Linked DNA regions of Homo sapiens. The protein of the gene in region 1 interacts with the protein of each later gene in a pairwise test. Each region holds a gene or a part of one and is shown on either strand. Other genes may lie near its edges.

What was found.
Region 2: the proteins of COQ8A (region 1) and CLTA interact in binary tests that used the Homo sapiens proteins (3 or more experiments, as listed by UniProt).
Region 3: the proteins of COQ8A (region 1) and FGD5 interact in binary tests that used the Homo sapiens proteins (3 or more experiments, as listed by UniProt).

Annotation. Positions count from the first base shown.
Region 1 is NC_000001.11:226,984,894-226,988,822, reverse strand, and holds the end of COQ8A (atypical kinase COQ8A, mitochondrial), read right to left. Parts: coding exon 3,882-3,929; intron 3,570-3,881; coding exon 3,483-3,569; intron 2,371-3,482; coding exon 2,086-2,370; 3' UTR 1,279-2,085; downstream 1-1,278. UniProt on the Homo sapiens protein: Atypical kinase involved in the biosynthesis of coenzyme Q, also named ubiquinone, an essential lipid-soluble electron transporter for aerobic cellular respiration.
Region 2 is NC_000009.12:36,185,754-36,194,266, reverse strand, and holds the start of CLTA (clathrin light chain A), read right to left. Parts: upstream 3,347-8,513; 5' UTR 3,211-3,346; coding exon 2,994-3,210; intron 1-2,993. UniProt on the Homo sapiens protein: Clathrin is the major protein of the polyhedral coat of coated pits and vesicles.
Region 3 is NC_000003.12:14,919,130-14,927,307, forward strand, and holds part of FGD5 (FYVE, RhoGEF and PH domain-containing protein 5), read left to right. Parts: intron 1-1,217; exon of another isoform or gene 1,218-1,354; intron 1,355-1,583; exon of another isoform or gene 1,584-2,330; intron 2,331-2,788; coding exon 2,789-2,888; intron 2,889-3,171; exon of another isoform or gene 3,172-3,281; coding exon 3,282-3,419; exon of another isoform or gene 3,420-3,916; coding exon 3,917-4,046; exon of another isoform or gene 4,047-4,219; intron 4,220-4,847; exon of another isoform or gene 4,848-4,872; coding exon of another isoform or gene 4,873-4,878; coding exon 4,879-5,009; intron 5,010-6,940; coding exon 6,941-7,069; intron 7,070-8,178. UniProt on the Homo sapiens protein: Activates CDC42, a member of the Ras-like family of Rho- and Rac proteins, by exchanging bound GDP for free GTP. Mediates VEGF-induced CDC42 activation.

The DNA.
Region 1 (3,929 bases):
AGATGTTAGGGACACGAAGACACAGACCCTGGGAAAATCAAGCCATGATTTGCCATGTTCTCATGCCCCATGTCTCAGTGTGAATGGGTGAGCACGGGGAGTCATTCATCACAATACTGTAAAAATCAAAATAGGTACAAAAGAATAAGTATGTGTGGCCAGCTTCAGAGCCAGCTTTACTTGGGGATTAAAGTCATTTGCAATCCAGTGATCCCCACTGTCTTCACAGGGAGGGCTCTAGTTCTCAGCCGGCTCTCAGACTTAGGACACACAAACCACATTCCAGTTTTCCCTTAGAAAACTTCTCCTGTTCCAGCAGTTATGGTCGTGGTTCCTGGGGAAGCAAATGCTGGCTGCTGTTGTTCTCCTCTCCCTTCCCCCCGCATGCTGCTGCTTGACTTGTTTGGCTTGTTGTTCAAGAGGAAGAGGAGACTGTGAGAGCCCTGGCTGGGGCTGGCCTGGGTTCTTCCCCTGCTGTTTACTCTGCAGGGCGATGGCTTCAGATCTGAGTGCTGCAGAGGAGTTTGCTAGACAACAGCAAATACCCTTAAGAAGAGGGCCACAAGAGTTTCAGCCAGGGATCTGACAGTGGTGCTGGGCGCCGCTGCTAGCCAGGCAGCCTCACGGACGCCACCCAGGCCTCTCCATCCTGTCCCGGAGCCCACTGGGTCTGCTACTCGGCAATCCCAAATTTCAGAAACTATATTTTCTTTCTTTAAGAACCCTGAAAGCCTATACCTCTCAAAGCCTCTTTTGGGCCTGTGCATTCTGCAGATGCACTTTCAACTGCTCACAGGTCCGTAGAAAGGGCCCCAGCTCAGTGTCCAGTGTGTCCTGTTATCTAGGAATCAGTCTGGCCCCAGGAAAAGCCACTTTTCAGGACGTGGTCCTCAACTGCAGCTGATGTCTAGAGAGGAGACGTCTCACTGTGATGCAGACCTGGCATCAGCCGTGCTGGCAGGTGTCACTGTCCTCCCAGTTGCCACCATCACCAGGTACAGCAGCTTCAGCAGTGTGGTACAGCCTCCCGGGGGCTGGGGCAGTGACACCGCAACCTCTCCTCCTGTTCTCCACCCCTCCCACCTCCCTTCTTACAGGGAACGGGGCTGAGCCTTCCAGGTTCAGGGCCAAGGGCCTCACGCTGAACCAGTCCCAACCCTTGCAAATGGGCTGTGACACTGAACCTGCTGACCGTCAGGTCAGAAAAGAACCACCACCACGAGCTAGAAGATACGGGTCGTCATTCTCCAGAATACAGAAGAGGGTACACGCGCCAAAGCACTTCCCATGAGCATTTTTATTAAATTGAAACAAGTTGTTGATTCGATAATTACAAGACTTGTACAAAAATTCACAGCGCCTGTGAGGAGCCTTTGGCTGGAACTGGTGACACCTGTGCCTCTCCGGACAGAGGAAGGAAGTCCCACCCCGCCTTCCAGCAGCAGCGAGCCTGTGTCTGGCATTCCCTGTTCCGCTGCTCCCACCCTCACTGTGGGGCAGCAGTTCTTTAGGAACATTCAGCTGTCAAAGGTGAGAACCAGCCCCACAGGCCTGGGCCTCGCAGGCTTAAGGAGCACTTGTTGGCACTGTTAGCTCAGCACCTCTCCCAGCTCCAGCCCATCGGCTGGAGAGGAAAAGGGCAGAAAACACAAATCTCACTCTAGAAACACATACACACACCTACTACACAGATGATAAAATCCCACAATCGTATCTGTTCATGTTTCTGGGTTTTGCACTGAACAGAGATTGGAAGGGAGTAAGGACTCTCTCCCTTCTGCTTAACATTCACATCAGGAAAAAGAAGAAAACAAAGTTGCCCTTTCATCTTCATCTGCTTATTTCAGAGGACACACGGAGGCAGACTGACCGAGCAGTGGGGCTTCATCTTCATTCTTGCACTTCTCACCCTACAACCATTTAGCAACAGAAACCGTGGAAAGCGCTGGCTACGGGGCTCCAGGCAGCCACCCCCCTTATTGGGCAAAGGAGTTAAAAAGAGCATCACCACGACCTCGCTACTGGTTTTTGGCCTGTCTGAGGGAGAGAGTTCCCGCGGAGCCGGCCTGGGCGTGGCCCGCAGCCCTACTGCTGGGCCTGCCTCTTGCAGTAGTTGCTGTAGGCCTCCTCGAACATGGCCTTGCAGGGGAAGCGGGCCTTCAGCTTGGAGCAGATGAGGAAGGAGCCCCCCATCTTCCTGTGCAGGGAGTAGGTTTCCTCGGGTGGGGGGACGAGACGGTGCCTCAGCATGACGGGAATCAGGTTGTGGATCTTCTCGGTGGTGCTCTGAGTGCCAAAATCAAAAGGCTCATCAGAGGCGAAGGCCTCCCCCAGGATGAGGATGGCATCCAAGTGGGCGTCTTCCATGACCTGGGGCAAGAGAGGAAGGATAAATGGCGGCGAGACACCAGAGCCCTCCACCAGCCCGGGTTCCTCCCACAGTGCCCGGGGCGCTGAGTTCTCATTCAAAGCTCTGCTGTAAACTGGATTACATCATGGTAATGGGCATAAACTCAAACCCACAGGGGCCGGGAACACGAGGGTAACATGGACTGGGCTGATGTGATACAAAAGGGAGTGGCGGGGCCTGTGGCAGAGTGCAGAGGATGCGTCCCGCCTCGTGGCACTCATACAGAGTTTTAACAAAACACTGTTCTGGCCAAAAAGAACAGAGTCCGTGGGCCTAAGCTGGCAGGGCCTCCCACCATGCGTGTCTGAGCCTGCCAGAGTCCACCCAAGACACACCCAGCAGCCGTGTGTCTGCCCACGGGAACTAGCAACCTAAGGAAGCCGCCGCCAGCAGAGCAGGGGAGAGGAGCTGCCGCCAGGGACAGCCCAAGGTGGTCAGAGGGACGGGGCGGCCAGGAATCGAGTCAGTGCGAGTGGCCATAAGGAAGAGGCGGGAGAGAGCTGCTGCCCGCTGAGCGCTTACAGCTGAGATAAGGGGGGCTCAGAGATACTGACAAGCCTCAAATGACACTCCTATGAGACGGCAGACCCAAGGCTTGACCTGGATTTCTTTAACTCCTTCCCCACTGTCAAGCAGCAAGCGGAAAATGCCACTTTGTGGGTGGCTTCAGGCGGCACCAGCACAGACCGTTCCCCTTTATTTAAAAGGCTTCTAAGGTTTCTTCCAACTCCCCCCAGGGAGGCTCGATGAGGGGAGGGCTGGGGCTTCCCTTCCCACTTGCTCTGCACGTTGGCTCAATCGAGGCCCAACCCCAAGCCCTAAGTGGGCAAGAGTGAGAGGCAGAAACAAGAGCTTCACGACAAGTCCCCAACTCACTGGCCCACTCGGAAAATCTCACGCTCAGCAGGGCAGCATGGGCCGGGGTGGGCCCCAGCTTTCAGACCGTGCCCAAGGAGGCCCGGGCTCTGGGGGCCCCTTGAGGGCAGCTGCCCCCTGTGCTTTCATCCATTCTTACACAGGGAGCCGGGCCCTGGGTCAGCAGGCCCAGGGGATCCCCCGCAACCCTGCTCACCTTGACCTCGTAGCCGGTGAGGAACTTCATCTCTATGGATTTCGCCCGCACAGTCTCCCTGTCCCTGTCGGCAGCAGCCCTGATGATCTGGGGAGAGGCACAGGAGGGGACCGTGGGCAGCATGAAAAGCTCAGCTCCCGACATCCCAGGGAGCCAAGTGCCACACCCGAGCCCACCCCACCCTCATCCTCTCCCTGCACAGGGCCCCCGGCCAGTGCTGTGACACCACGCCTGGCAGCTGTCAGCCTAACTGCCTGCTGTCACCAGACCTGAGGGGCAGGCAGCGCAGATGGGGACACAAGGGCAGGAACCCAGTCATTCTCCCTACCCCGAGTCCCCCAGCATCCTGTCCCAGCCTCAGAAAAACATGGACCAAGGCCAGGGCCCCTCTCCAGTTACCTGAATGTAGAGGTCGGTGAAGGATCTGTCATATTCCCGCGTTGCCCC
Region 2 (8,513 bases), on another chromosome or scaffold:
TCACCTGAGGTCAGGAGTTTCAGACCAGTCTGGCCAACATGGTGAAACCCCGTCTCTACTAAAAATACAAAAAGTTAGCTGGGCACGGTGGTGGGCGCCTGTAATCCCAGCTACTCGGGAGGCTGAGGCAGGATAACTGCTTGAACCCAGGAGGCGGAGGTTGCAGTGAACCGAGATCGCACCACTGCACTCCAGCCTGGGTGACAGAGCGACTGTCTCAAAAACAACAAAACACCATAATAGTGCCTTACTGCTGTACTCTCTCTGTGGCTTGTCTCTCCTGTTCTCTTCCCCGACTCAGCCCTCATGATTGAGAGCTTTTCAACAGCTCCACTTGTGCTGCCTCCTTCATGACCACCTGTTCTTCCTCAATATCCCCCACAGCTGGTTACCTCAATATCACTTCACCCAGCTGGTTTCTTCCTGCCTCTAAACCTACGTCTCTTTTCTGGATCTCTTAACAACCAAAGGAGTCATCCAAGGCTTAGCCCTAACCCCTCTGGTTTTTGCCTGTGCCCATCCTCCATAGACGCTTTCCGCAAGGCTGGGGCCAGTTTATTTTCCTCTCATCAATCTGTCATAGCTGACTGCCTATATATCTCTGTATAATACATCAGAAAGAGAGCTCCCGCCTAAAACCTCAATTTACTCAGTACACTTCAAAGCCTAAAGGCCTTGTAACTCCTTTCTCCCACTAATAGTAGCTGGAATTCACTAGATACTTAATATAACTGTAAGCACTTTATAGACACTCTTTAATGTAATCCTAAAGATGCCACATAGCATTATAAATTATATTATGCAACTTTTACAAAGGAGAAAACTGAGGCCGGGCAGTGGTGGTAGTTATATACATTGTCTGAGATCACAAAGCTAAACTCACACTCAAGCAGTTTAGGATAGCATAGAATCTTAACCACTAGAGCATATCTTTAAAAAAAAAAAAAAAGAAGGAAAAAGAAAACTAAGAGAGAAAAAGTGTCCAATCAGTTCTCTAAACTCCAAAGGAAATGCTGACCACTGCATATTACCAACTTCAATTACACTGTCAGGAATCTGGCTTTAAGTCACCAAATGCTTAGTTCACTAAGAAAGTCCCTCCTAGGAACTAAGTCAGCAACCATTTCTTTCCTTCCCTTTGCCGAAGGCTTGATGCACAAAGGACCGAGCATCCAACTCTATTCTCTCCCTTTTACCTTCCCTAACTGCCCGTCACCAAGATCTGTCAGTTCTACATAGGACCCTTGGATCTGACATTTTTGCCCATTTCTTTGTCAAACGTGAGCATCTACTACATGTCAGACACACTGCTAGGCAGTGGAGATAAAACAGTAAGGGTAACACTGTCCTTGAATCAGGACAATCTTCCAACTACAGATCTTGGGTTCTGCTTCTCCCAAATCTGTTCCACCTGGGACAGCCACAGCTGCCTGTCTGTTATCGCACTACACCCCTGCTAAAACAACTAAACACTGCAACAGAATGTGGTATATTCTAAGAGTGGGTAGACTTGGGGCTCAGCTATTAACTCGTGCTTTTTTAAGCAAGTCGTTTCTCTCTAGGATTGCTTCTCTTCTATTAAATGAGGAAGGTTAAACTAAGGGTCTAAGAAGTCAATTTTAAAATTCTCAGACAAATGTTAGAGACCACCCAATGAAAATATCCCCTAATCACTTAAGGCCAACTTCATCTCACAATCACAGCCTAGTTTAGTCCAACCTACCCGCTATAAAGTTGCATATTCGGGCATATTACATGTTCCCACTAAGTTCTTATTGGGGGACTGATTTGTTTAGGAAGCAACATGGTGCAGTCAAAAACTCAAGAGGCTGCAAACTAGCAGCACACCCACCAACCCATCCATCAAAAGGTTCCGCCTGGCTGGCACAGTAACTTGAGACTGCTGGATCTGAATGCCTTTACACAGAGCACTACTATAGTGCAGCAAAGCCTCAGTCTCCAACACTTCTACTGTCTCATGTCAAGCCAGCTTCTCTCGTATATGTTACCTACCTGGCTCCTTAAGGTTTGAATTTAGGGTAGACACTACTCCTATATGCCCCAGTAGTGCCCTATTCTCCCTTAGTTGGAATTTTTTAAGTGAATGAAAAGCCGTATTTCATTTCTTCTAGCTAAATTTCCTACTTCTTTGTATTATTAAGTAGGTCTTTTCCACTCATGATCCTAAGCATCACACACAGGTTAAGGCATCCAAAGGTCAAACTGCCATCCTACCTGCCCCATTTTTACTTGAGTTTGGCTGAGAACATTCTCTATTCACCTCTTCATCCCTCCCTGATTGGTTTAGGCTAATCTTGGGTTCTGCTTAGGCAATATTGCCTACCAAAGCTGTTCCCAGAGGAAGAGCTCCAGAAGTCCTAGCTGTAAATCAATCGCTCAACGATAGCAAACTCCTACCGCGCTTGGCAGTTCTTTCTCCAGACCTAGATCATCTTTCGAGTTCCCTACTCCCTCCTTCCTCCTCGTAATCCAACACTCTGTACACCTTAAGTGCTTAAATGCTGAACTGCATTGCTACTTTTGTTTGTATCTCTCAAAAACGATATTTCCATTCTTATTTTTTTCCGCCCTCCTTTTCTAATAACGAGTTCTGTGCTCGGCTCAGACTTATAAGCTTATAAGTCTGGAAAAACTGCGCCAATGCGGTTGCTTCAGAGACCGGACTAAAGGCACAGCAAATGCTTAATGAAAAGTTGCTGAATTGAACGGGCTTCTTCCGGCTCCGGAGCCTGCCACCCTACACTTGCTTTCTCGCTCCGCCCGCGCCCAGAAGCACTCAAACATGCTGAGAACCGAACAGGCTTCTCGAGCCTAGGTTTCTGAAAGACCGGGCCAGGGTCTCGTTTCCTGTTTGCACTGCTCCCTAACCTCCTAATTCAGCAAGGAGCACGAGTCACACAGAAGCTCTCGGACCCACTGTGGACCGAGTTTCCAGACAAGTCCTCTCGCCCCAAACGCGCCCGCACTCTCACCCGGACCCCCCGGCGGCTCGCCGTGCGGCTGGGGCCCGGGGGCGCCGCCGTCCAGGATGGCGAAGGCCTCGTCGTTCTCGATGCCCGCAATCTCGCTCTCTTGCTGCGCCAAGAAGGCCGCAGCCGGGTCTTCTTCGCCGGCGCCGGCCACTCCGTTCCCCAGCGCGGGACCGCCAGGGGCGCCGGCAGGGGCGCCGAACGGATCCAGCTCAGCCATGGCGGGCAACTGAACGGCACGGACACCAACGGTGAGACAAAAACCAACCGACCCACCGACACCACGCCCGGCAGCCACCGCTGTGGTGCCGACTGGGAGAGGAGGACAAGCGCCAGGAGGGAGACGGGTAAAGCGGAAGCCCTACCCGTGTATCCGGTCGGTCTAGGCGGTGTTGCAGAGCCGAAAAGGGAACAACCAATCAGAGGACAACAATGGTTCAGGAGCTACCCAATCAGCAAGTGGAGGGGCGGTCCCCCTAAAACAACTCGTGACTGGGGTAGGGCGGGAGGTGAGGGAGGTGAGCTGCGCGGGCCCCGGGAGGCGGAAGTGCTGCCTGATAGGGAGCGTCCTACCCACCCCGTCTGCTGGAGCTGGACTGACCAGGGACGGCCACCCCTGAGGGGACTCTAGTGCTGCACTGGGAGGTGAGGTGAAGTTAGGGCAGCGACGATTGGCCGATTACTGAAGAGGCATGCCACTTAGGCTTTCTGAACCTCAGTTTCCTCATTCGTAAAATAGAAACAAGAATCCTGCTCTTGCGCCCCCTCCCGGGATTATTAGAAGATTGAATCCTAAAAAAAAAGAAGAAGAAGATTGAATCCTTTTATGGATTTGAGGGTCCCTGGCTTTATAAATTTAAAATATTTAATTCTTTCAGCCAGCCTGGATTATTTGCTCCCTTAGAGCCCATAGATTTACTGTAATTGATTCAGTCCACTCCGATTTTTCTCGCCCATAAGTATTTTTATTTAAAAATGAATATATCTTATCTTCTTCAACGAAGCACTTTTGCAGCCATTACGTCTTTTCGGAGCTAGACAGAAGTTACTAAACCTGGAAAATTCCTTAAGGATCACTTGCTTCAAAGGGAGACACGGTGGCCCTGCTGTTCAAGGAGCGTCAGTGACCCAGAGAGTCAGTGACCAAGAGGAAACGCCTGTCTCCTGGGGACTTCCAAGATACTAGCTACAGTCTCTTATATTTACACCTTTCCTCCCTAAGGACAGCAGGAAAAAGAAAGTTCCGTGTTTCTTTTTAAATCAGGGAGATGTTAATAGCTACATGGCTCATTTTGTCTACACCACAGAAATAACAGTGGTTCCAGTTAATCATGCTCATGTTGAGGGGGAGTGCTTATGCAGGGGCCACCAGAAGACCCCTCTCCTTCACTACCACCACCACCACCCTAAGAAATGAAAAGCCAAAAAAAGAAACCAAAAAACCAGAGGTCAACAAGAAGCTTCCAGAGGTAGTCAGCAGGGGACAAGAAAGTGTTTTTATAAAAAACGCACATATCTTTGATGACAAAAAAAAAGGGATAGCTATGAAGGAAAAATGAAGCAAATAAAAATTATTTAAAGCATATATTTACTTAAAGCATAATTTTAAAGTCATTTAAAGTATGAACCATAGGAAAGTGTTGAAGAAAAACATTTAAGAAAGTTAAAATGTTAGGGTCTGCAATTGATTCTGTTTCCCCTTGTCTGTTGTTTTATGCTCATCCCTAACATACATTGGCAACAGTGCATGAAGTATTTTCACATTAGCCTTGACATAGTCTCATGAGGAAAAGAGGGGCAGGGACTACTATGAGAGAGCCCAAGGAAGACAACTTTTAGTTGCTCACAACAGTAGTAGCTCCGGAACAGACAGCATTCTTTTTGGGGAAATGCATGACTTTGGGAGAAACTCTCCTGTGATTCCCTTGCTAGAGGAGGCATTACATATTATGCAAAAGCAACAAACAAGTATACACTCAAAATTGGAGGAATAGCTGATGTGTTTACGGATGATTTCACAGAGGTGGCTTGGAGCTCAGTTTTGAAATATGGGGAACGTTTAGAAGAGTCAATAATGAGGGTCTAATGTTAGTGTCATGTAAAAGTTCAGAGGTGGGAAAATGTTTGGCATGTTTTGGGGACAGTGAGTAAATTAGTTGGAGTCTGAAGAGCTCAGCAAGATGAATAATTGAAGGAAAATCTGGGGACAGATTCTGGAGCCCTGAAAGCATTCCATGTTAAGGAATCTTAATGGCAATAAGGAACCATAGAAGGTTTCAGATAAAGGAATGTTTTGATCAACTGCTGCTTAGGAGGTTAATCGGGTCCCTGGTTGCAGGATGGATGGGGCAGAGGCTGTGGGCAGAGATGTCAGGAGTGACATGATGAAGGTCTGGGCAGGGCAGAGGTATGGAGCTGAGTGGGGAGCGTTGATGGGAAAGCGGGTCCCAGTAGGGAAGTGACTAACTTGGTGACCGACCAGAGGTACGGGCTGGGAAAAAGGCAAGGGGAAAGGATGGGGTCATAAATCATGAATCTGTGAAATTGCCAGAACCATTAGTTTGAGGGCTTTGGGGGAGCCCAGGTGATTGCTGGGAGACAGAAGATTTAGAAGATGTCCAGGAACTAGAAGTGTGTAGCCTGCCATGATCCCTGGTGGACTGAACAAAGGTGGGTGGGCAATGGGAATAAAAGACAAGACAAAAGAGTATATTTGGAAGAAGGGGTCAGGGGGCACTTTGCCTCTAGTGGACAAGGGCCCTGAGTTTTACACATCCCTCCGTATTTCGTAGGCAAAAGAGAGCGAGAAAGGGGGGGTGATTGTCGGTAATTGTCAGTTAGAGGTTTGGTTCACAGCAGGCTTGTGAGACTGCATCTTTTGAACAATAGGTGCTAGATTTCTTAGATAACTTCAAGGAGCCCTGCACCAAGGAGTGATGTCCATCAGCAAACCTTTTGGTGGCAGGTGCAGTGTGTTTGCTCACATCCTACATTCATGATAAACAGTTTGCTGTTTGATCATATAGCCTCCAGTGGAATGCTGAGTTGGTCACGATCCCTTTGGCCTTTTCGGCTCCCAACAGAAGTGTGTATAGGAGAGAGTGGGACCACAGATGGAGACTAGAGAGGGAAGGACTGAGGCCTAAATCTTGGAGGATGGCTATATGTGAAGGAGGTAGAGGGGTGGGTCAGAGAGATTGGAGAGGGTTCAGTTAGAGCTGGGTGATGGAAGTCAAGCAGAGTTTGCAGAAGGAAGGAGTGACTAGCAGAAAGGTGAAGAATGAGAGCTGAGCAGATGCTCTTGGCCATCAAGTTCCCTGGTCACCTTGGTGAGAGAGATGTCAGTGGATGCCAGGAGTGGAAATCAGTTTGCACTAGGTTGAGGGATGGAAGCATAGTGGACATCTGTTGGTTCTGCCTGCCTACATCCAATTCCCTTTGTTCTGATACCAGCACTCCAATATTCCTTTGGGGAACCATTCTTCCTCATTTTCAGTTTTGTGGTTTGGATTGAGTGGACCACCCCCATGTGACCCAGGCCTGGCCAATTAGAACATCCCATTCCCTGCCCAAATGATTGGGAATGGACAAGTGAGTCAAACCAGGCTCATGAGGCTCAATTCCAGGACTGTTACTAGAATCTTAGGGAAAGAGCTAACTCTTTCTGCTGGAGCTGACAAGCAGGCAAAGTGTAAGCTTAGAGCTTCTTGTGGTCATCTTGTCATCAAGAGGAGAGATTGAGAGTGAGAATGAGGTCAACATGGAGGAATGCAGAGAGTGAGAAAGACAACTTCCTGTTGGTATCATTGAGGACCTGGATTCAGCCATGCTTGAAGTGAAAGATCTACTTCTGTACTTTTTGGCTCTGTGAACAAATAAATTCTATTTTTTTTCCCCTTAAGACAATTTTGAGTTGTGTTTCTGTCATAAAGAATTCTGCCTAATCCAGGCCAGGCACAGTGGCTCACGCCTATAATCCCAGCACTTTGGGAGGCCAAGATGGGTGGACCATTTGAGGTCAGGAGTTCGAGACCAGCTTGGACAACATTGTGAGACCCCGTCTCCACTAAAAATACAAAAATTAGCCAGGCATGGTAGTGTGCACCTGTAATTCCAGCTACTCAGGAGGCTGAGGTAGGAGAATCGCTTGAACCCAGGAGGCGGAGGTTGCAGTGAGCCGAGATCACGCTGCTGCACTCCAGCCTGGGCAACAGTGTGAGACTCTGTCTCAAAAAAAAAAAAAAAAAAAAAAGAATTTTGCCTAATATAGAATGAGAAGTGAGGGCAAATTTAAATGTAGAAGACATTAGAAAACTTTGCAGCCGGGCACCGTGGCTCACACCTGTAATCCCAACACTTTGGGAGGCCGAGGAGGGTGGATCATCTGAGGTCAGGGGTTCGAGACCAGCCTGACCAACATAAAGAAACCCCGTCTCTACTAAAAATACAAAATTAGCTGGGTGTGGTGGCACATGCCTGTAATCCCAGCTAACTCGGGAGGCTGAGGCAGGAGAATCACTTGAACCCAGGAGGCGGAGGTTTGCGGTGAGCCGAGATCACGCCATTGCACTCCAGTCTGGGCAACAAGAGTGAAACTCCGTCTCAAAAAAAAAAAAAAAAAAAAAAAAAAGGTTTGCAATGAGGGCCGGGCATGGTGGCTCATGCCTATAATCCCAGCACTTTGGGAGGCTGAGGCGGGCAGATCACTTGAGGCCAGGAGTTTAAGATCAGCCTGGCCAACATGGCAAAAACTCACCTCTACTAAAAATATAAAAATTAGCCGGACATGGTGGCATGTGCCTGTAGTCCCGGCTATTGGAGAGGCTGAGGCATGAGAATTGCTTGAACCTGGGAGGTGGAGGTTGCAGTGAGCTGAGATCATCCCACTGCACTCCTGCCTGGGTACAGAGTGAGACTCCATCTCAAAAAAAAAAAAGGAAAGGGGAAAGGAGGAAAGGAGGGAGAGCTGTGGCTAGAGAGGGCTCTAAGGTTGGGGTGATGTTTAGGTAAGAGAGACTTGAATGCTTGAATACATTTGTATGCCGAAGATAGAGGTTGAAGTCATAGAAGAAGGAGAGGTGGTGGGAAGGATGGGCTAAGGAGGGAGGATTTTAGAGGCAGAGACAAGGCTGAGGACAACTCTGAGGGACTCAATTGCTCCAGTAAAGTGAGAACCAGTAGAAAAGAGAGGAGAGGTTTAGAACCACCAAGGGGAAACTCAATAGATGATGGCCAAGAAAGACCTAGAAGGACTGTATTGTTCTAGTCAGGGTTCTCCAGAGAAACAGAATCAATAGAAGATGCATAATATGTATACATGTATATATATCCATATGCTGGGGAACAAAACACCATGGATTGGGTGGCTTAAACAGCAGAAATTAATTTTCTCACTGTACTAGAGGTTAGAAGTTCAAGATTAAGGTTCCAGCTGATTTGGTTCTAGTGAGGGCTCTCTTCTTGGTTTGCAGATGGCCACCTTCACTCTGTCCTCACATGGCCTTTTCTCTTATGTCTCTTATA
Region 3 (8,178 bases), on another chromosome or scaffold:
TTTATGGATGATTGGGTCTCTACAGCAACACGAAAAGTTAAGGCCAGTAAAAAATGTATTGTGTGCTGCTGTTCATAAAGTGGCCTGCCTTTTTGCGTTCCTGTCTAGAAGATGAGAGAAAAAAAATAATAAGTGAGCGTTCATCACTTATGTTGCCCTGTCTGTGTGGTGTCTTAGTCCATTCAGGCCACTATAACAAAAATACCAGGCCGGGCGCGGTGGCTCACGCCTGTAATCCCAGCCCTTTGGGAGGCCGAGGCGGATGGATCACAAGGTCACAAGATCGAGGCCATCCTGGCTAACACAGTGAAACCCCGTCTCTACTAAAAATACAAAAAATTAGCCGGGCGTGGTGGCAGGCACCTGTAGTCGCAGCTACTCGGGAGGCTGAGGCAGGAGAATGGCGTGAACCGGGGAGGTGGAGCTTGCAGTGAGCCGAGATTGCACCACTGCACTCCAGCCTGGGCTACAGAGCAAGACTCCGTCTCAAAACAAAAACAAAAACAAAAACAAAAATACCATAAACTGAGTGACTTATAAACAACAGAAATTTCCCACAGGCTGCAGGTCAGGAAGTCCAAGGTCAAGGCACTGACTGATTCGGTGTCTGGTGAGGTTCTGCTTCCTGGTTCAAAGACGGTGCCTTCTCACATAGACAATGCCACCTCATGTGGTGGGAGGAGCAAGGGTCTCTCTGGGGCCTCTTGTATAAGGGCACTAATCTCATTCGTGAGGGCTCCACACCCATGGCCTCATCACCTCCCAAAGGCCCTGCCTCCCAACACCAGCACCTTTGGGAAGAGGATTTCTGCATTTGAATTTGGGGGGACACAAACATTTAGACCACAGTGGGGCATGGCATTTCTATCAGAAAGGTCTGCATTTTCTCCAGGCCCTCGGGTTGCCTGGGATCCTCATCTCTGGCTTCAGACCATGACCTTAAAGAGCATCCCCTTTTCCTTCTTTCAGGGCAAGGTAAGCTCAAGCTCTCGGGGGCTTGGAAACCAGGGAGGTATGCCTCCAGCCAAGAGTAGCTCTTCAGCCAGGGACGTGCATGGCAGGGGTCAGCAAGGCTTCTGGGGCTTGGGTGTCTACTCTCAGCAAGCACATGAGATGGGATGGCAGCAGTGCCTATCACATGGGGGTTTATCCTGCATTGGGCGGTTCTGAGTGTGAAATGGGATCTAAATGCACTCATGCACATGCACTCTCATAGATGCATTTTCTCATTAAAATCATTTATTAGGTGGGGCATGGTGGCTTATACCTGTAATTCCATCAATCTGGGAGGCTGAGGCTGAAGGATTACTTGAGGCCAGGAGTTTGGGACCAGCCTGGGCAACATAGTGAGACCCTGTCTCAAAAAAAAAAAAAATTTAAGCATTTATTAGCCACACCTCAGTGCCAGGTCTGGCAACAATTTAGCCGTTGTTGTGCTCTCCAGGAGCCCACATTACAGGTAGGAGAGTTGTAAACTGCTTCAGATGCAGGGCAGTAACTGCTGTAACAATTAATAGTGGTAATGACAGCAGTAACAGGCATTGGACACCTGTCAGGCCCCAGACGCCGCCGTGATCCTCATCACCACCCTTAGAGCTGGGGTTTGCGGCTCCTTCCATGCATAGGGAGTTGAGGCTTGCAAAAGGGTCACACAGCCAGGTGAGGTGGAACTGGAGTTTGAACCCAGGACTGTGTGGACCAGAGCTCTTATCTGTTACAGTCTACTGCATGAGGGAGTAGAAAAGGGCTTGGAAACCCAAAGGAGGGACTGCCCCATCTGGAGGAGTGAGGGAATGCTTCCTGGAGGAGGTGATGCCTGGGTGGGGGTCGTGGCCTCACCTCTCCTTGTGATAAAATCAAGGGCAGGAGGCTGCCAGCAAATAGTTTCTGTTAGTCCGGCCATGACTTGAGGGTGGTGACGATCCACACGTGGGCCTTCAGGTGGGGCTGCCCATCTCCCAGGGCAAGGACAGTGGCCTTTAGCATGCCAGTCACCTTCCTGCTAGTCCAGACCCTTCACACTTGAAGCTCCCAGGGGACCGCAGGACCCATTCATCACATTTTAGGGACATGGTGTCTTGCTGCCCACAATGCTGATTCAGCCTCTGCCCTGCAGCACTGCTCCCGCCCAGGCCAGCGGGCCCTTATGCTTGCTTTCCGGGGCAGGCTGCACACTTACCTGTGGTGTAGGCGCGGCATCTAGTGGACACTGTGAGAACTTCACCCAGCTAGCTGGCACCCAGCCCAGGCGTAGCTCTTGCCACTCAGGAAGCCCTCCCTGGTGCAGAGCAGGGACTTGGAAAGTGCCTGTTGGATGACTGTCTGGGAAGCTATGTGGGGAGATGAGGAAGGTGGGAGACACAGATGTTTACCTTTGCCAGCTCCCACCTACCCCTCATCCTCCACAGGTACCCAGCCCTCTGTCCCCTGCCAGCCCGTTTCTCCTGAAGTGTGGGACCCTCTGGGCCTTCCTAATGTCTCTTGCTTTTGCACAATGTTGACAATGTGGTTCCACGTCCCACATCTCCCTTCATCCCCACAGCAGCCCTGGGAGTTAGGGGAATATCATTATTCCAGTGTAAGAAGAAACAGACCCAAGGACAGCTAATGGACCAGTGGTCTGCTCGTAAACCTAGTCTGGCAGGTGATCTCTTCTTTGCTGGTGGTTCTGGGCAGTGTGAGAGGTGCAGGCTCAAGGGGCATCTGAGTGAGAACCTCATCCATGCCGAGATGGAGGGTGGGAGGCAGAGCTGCTCCTGCCTTTGCTCACTCCAGCCCATGCCCGCAGCTCCTGTGCAGAGAGGGACGAGTGGTATGGCTGTCTGAGCAGAGCCCTCCCTGAGGACTACAAGGCCCAGGCGCTGGCTGCATTCCACCATAGCGTGGAGGTGAGTGGGTGGGCAGGGCCCACGGGCCACCAGCTTCAGAGACCTGGGGTTCCCTGGGCGGGCATTGCTGTTGCCACTCACACCCAGATGGACGTGTAGCTCCTGTCTTGGGGCACTGGCTCCCCCCACACCCCTGCCATGCTCCCACCCTAGTCAGGGGCGGCCTCCGTGTAACCTAGGAGCCCAGCACCCACAGTCTTGTTCTCACAGTCTGGCTGTTTCCCAACCAAGGGTGAGCATCCTGGAGGGTGCAGGAGAGGCCTTTCACATCAGACCCACTCACCCACACATCACACACCCTGCACAGAGACGCAGGGCAGGGCTCACTGGGCTCTGCATCTGGCTGGTCTCCTGGCCACATTCCACATTACTCAGCCAATTCTGTTGCTGCAGATACGAGAGAGGCTGGGGGTTAGCCTTGGGGAGAGGCCCCCCACCCTGGTGCCTGTCACACACGTCATGATGTGCATGAACTGCGGCTGCGACTTCTCCCTCACCCTGCGGCGTCATCACTGTCACGCCTGTGGCAAGGTGAGTCGCTGCATCTGGGGTGAGTGTGTGCATGGGGGTGGGGTGGGGGAAGGGCATGTCCCTGCCCAGCCGGGGGCTCAGGGATGTCCAGCAGCTACTGTAAGCCCCAGAGTGAGGCATGTTCACACCAACCCGAGAGGAACAGATTGCTAATTCCCATTTTATAGATCATCAAACCAGAGCTCCAAGTCCCAGGCCTCTTCCACACCACCACGTTTTCAACAGAAAACCGTAGCATACGTGGCTATTGTGCTTGGAGAAAAAAGTATCATGTAGTGGTTAAGGGCGCGGGCTCATCAGAAAAGCAGATAGGCGCTGGCTCAGAAACAAGATGAAGCCTTGCCGGAAAAGTAGGGGACACGCACAGCTCCATGATCAGAACCTGGGGCTCCCTAGGGGCAGTTGTGGGTGGATTAGCAGAGGGAGCGGAGGGGAGGGGTGCAGGTCTCCTTTGCATGCACTGAGAGGGGTGAGAATCTTCCCACCTGGGCCTGCAGATCGTGTGCCGGAACTGTTCGCGGAACAAGTACCCGCTGAAGTACCTGAAGGACAGGATGGCCAAGGTCTGCGACGGCTGCTTCGGGGAGCTGAAGAAGCGGGGCAGGGCTGTCCCGGGCCTGATGAGAGGTAACCTGGGGACCACTTGCCTTCTTCCAAGTGGCCTGGTGGCTTCTCCCCAGGCTCCAGTGGCTTCTCTGTGGTCCATGGTTCATGCCTGAAACCGCTTTCCCTGGAGGGAGTTATTCACTCCATGGAGGGAGGAAACAGAGGTTCGGGCACCATTTTCCAATATGTGGATTCTGTGGAAAATTGATCGGTGTCCCCAGAAGAAGAGCTCTGTGGGTAGCTAAGCTTAGGAATCAGTGTGTGTGTAAGGGGACAGAGGCAGGGAGCTCCTGTGTCCTTTACCATAGAGGCCCTCTTGTCAAGTATCCTATAGGCCTGTGCCTGTAGCGCCTTTCTGGGACTAAGGACTATATAAGCGTGGCAGCAGAGGAGCTGGGGTCAGGGAGGGGTGAAGCTGTTCCACACAGGAGCCTTGGGAAGCTGAGCCGGCCCCTGAGAGACCTGGTCAGTGCTGAAGGGACAGGCCTTGCCCAAGCAGGGTCAAGTTCCCAGGAAGGAGAGCAGGTGTATCTTGGGCCTAAAACTAAAGTCTTTCCCTGGCCTCCACTCCACGGGGCTGGACTAAGGTCATCAGAGAAGACAGCCCAGTCCCTGCTACCTGGAGGCCTGGAGGTGAAGGGCTGTCCAGCGCCCTGGAAAAGCGTCCCCTCCCCAGCCCCCATAGCCTTTGTCTGTTCCTGCAGGAGGGAGGGAGGAAGAGTGCTTGACTTTCAGGTCCCACTTAACCCCCATGGCTCACATTCCTAGAGGGATTTTACAGGAATCAGTGTTCCAAAGACAAGCCGCAGGCACGCCTCTCACCTCCCTTCCATGTGGCTTCTTTCAGTTACAGAGCGGCCTGTGAGCATGAGCTTCCCGCTGTCTTCACCCCGCTTCTCGGGCAGTGCCTTTTCATCCGTCTTCCAGAGCATTAACCCCTCGACCTTCAAGAAGCAGAAGAAAGTCCCTTCAGCCCTGACAGAGGTAAAGCAGGCAGGGCTACCCAAGTGGGAAGTAGGGCATTTGGAAGGTTCATGGTCATCCTGGGTAGACGGAGTCAGACCCTGCCCTGTCCCAGCCTGACCAGTCTCTTCCAGACAGAGCATTCCTAATGGAAGCATCCCAGCTACGAGGACCGACTTGACAGTGATGGTGCTAGGCGACATCTTTCCCATCCTTCTCTCTACCTCTCCCCTCCTCCTCTTTCTTTTCTCTCCTTTTTCTCCTGCCCCATAGCTTAGATCTAGTACCCAAGCAGACTGCACAGATCACGGGGGCTCTTCATTCTAAAGGAGCCAAATTCCTGTGTTGGTCCTTCCATGTCATCCCCTCATCCTAGGGGTCCCAACCCGGCTCAGGTGTTGACGTCCCTGGAGGCCATGGGCTCCGCAGGAAACTTCAGAACTGGCTAAACTCAATTGTATCCCACAAATAGGACCAGATTGTATGTCTGTATTTCCATTCACAACCACAGACCAATGTATGTCTGTGAATACACAAGGAGTCCACAAGTGTGATCAGCTGCTTCCAAGTTAGTCCATTAATATCAAGTAGCAGGTAGCAAGGGTTTAAAAAAGTGTTAGGGAATGGAAAATTTAAATAGGTACAGTTTTATCCATTAACTTGTTCCTTTTGCAAATTAAAAATCTTGGAAATCACACATACGGCCGGGCGCGGTGGCTCACGCCTGTAATCCCAGCACTTTGGGAGGCTGAGGTGGGCAGATCACGAGGTCGGGAGATCCAGACCATCTTGGCTAACACAGTGAAACCCCATCTCTACTAAAAATACAAAAATCAGCCGGGTGTGGTGTCATGCAGCTGTAGTCCCAGCTACTCGGGAGGCTGAGGCAGGAGAATCGCTTGAACCTCAGGGAGGTGAAGGTTGCAGTGAGCTGAGATGGCGCCACTGCACACCAGCCTGGCGACACAGCAAGACTCTGTCTCAAAAAAAAAAAAAAAAAAAAAAAAAAAACACATACATGGTTAAACATTTTTCCCAAAAAAGTACAAAACAGCACATATGATGAAAAGTGAGTTTCTCATCCTTCCCAGCCTCCCTCAATCCCACTGCCATCAAGTTTCTTATGGAACCTTGTGGAAATTTTCATGCACATACATAATACAGATGTACATTCATAGATCTTCTTTTTCTACCCAGAAGACAACATATTATACAGAATCTCTTCTGTTTTCTCCACTTAATTTGTCTTAGAGATCATTTCATAATCACATATATGTATAAACCTCACATTTTTTACATTGCATTCCTCTTTTACTAGTAAGGAAATTGAGACTTAGAAGAAGTCAGCAAATTGCTCATCATTAACCACCTAGTAATTGGTAGAGCCTGAATGGGAAATCCAGGTTGGTATTAACTCCAAGCCTGCGTTCCTCACCACATAAAGCCTGTGGACAGAATACTACTACCCCCCGCCACCACAAAGAGTAGTAATAATAATAAAAGGACTTAACGCTGCACACACCCCACTAGGCAGGAGACTATAATACCTTTTAGGCAACAGTACAAAGAGGATCCCTCCCTAAATGTGAGGAAGAGATAAGTTGAAAGTGCAAGAGTTAATTTTAGAAGGAAGAACCTTTCGCCGAAGTACCTGAACGAAGTTTCTTGAGTTGAGGGGCTTAGGTTGAGAGGGAACCAAGAATCTGAAAAACCACTAGAGGGCAGCATCAGCATTCCCAAAGTCAGCTGGGTCCATTCATTAAATCCTGTTTCTCAAAGCATGAAGCACTATCTTGCTGACTTTGGTACTGGATAGATCCTGAGACCTTATCCAGTGTCAAAGCAGTATAAGTAGTCAGCCAAATGGTTTGCAGTGTCATTTTGAATTGTGCTCTGTTTGAACTGTGCCTGACCACCGGGGTGGGCTGACCGCTCTGCTTCCCTCCTGCCAGGTGGCTGCCTCTGGAGAGGGCTCTGCCATCAGTGGCTATCTCAGCCGGTGTAAGAGGGGCAAGCGGCACTGGAAGAAGCTCTGGTTTGTCATCAAAGGCAAAGTTCTCTACACCTACATGGCCAGTGAGGTAGTAGTGATCTGCACTCTCTCCCCTCTCCTCTCTCCTGTGAAATGACCCCCTGGGGCCTGCACACATCCTGTCACTTGCAAAGCTGTGTGAGTCCTGGCTGCTGAGCCAGTTCTGGTGGCAGTCAAGTCTTTAGTGAGCAATGCCATGTGCTCAATGTTGCTGTGGCTACACAACCACATATCACTTCAAAATCTAAGGAATTTGCAGTTTCTTTGTGGATATAAGAAGGTACGGACATGCCAAGCTGTGCCGCAAAGTGTTTAAATGGCACAGGCCCAGCATCTAGGACAAAGATGGAACAAGCCAGCCATGCCACAAAAGAAAACACCTTCCTACTGTCTGCTTAGATTGCTTGGGGCAAAATTCAGCAGTGTGGAGGAAGCTACTCCCTTTTTGTCTGTCCATTTCTTTTATAGGGTAACTCTAGTAATTCTTCTAAAGAAAACTGAAATCTATATTTTATAGAATATCTTACTTTAGGTGAGAGAGCCTTGGAAATCAAGCTTACTTCCAGAGTAGACAGATGTGTGGCCATGGTTGTGTAGCAGGGTGCTGTCTGGCCCTGACCCAGGCTGAACCTGTTGGATAATGTGAAACATTTCTATCTCCATGCTTCACCAGCTGGTGGCTTCTAGGTGGTCAGGCATAGTTTCAGCTTTGAAAATGGGAGTTAAATGTATTCTGACGAGCTGCAGAGGGTGGGTGCTTTGCTCCACTGGGATATGCATGTCAGGGCTGGCTCTTCTCCCCTGGCCACAGATGCTAGCAAATGTGCAAAAGGCACTTCCTTCTTTGGGGCATGAAGCTTCCCTCTGGAAGGACCTGCAACTGTGAAGGTTGCCGTGTGCCCATTCCCAGGGATCACAGAGGATGGCTTTCTAGAAGAAATTGCTTTGGAGCCATACTTAAACACTTAGCAAGGCCCCACATCTGTTTACTCTAAGCAAAGCAGGCAGACAGGGGATCTGCCATAGGCCTGAGCGGCTTGGGTACCCGGTAAGCTGCACCCCACCCTGAGGGGCCTTTGCCTGTGTCCACAGGTGGGGTCTTCCACACTGTGGGGGATTTTTATCTTTCCAAAACAAACTGAACAGTTGTCATGGAAG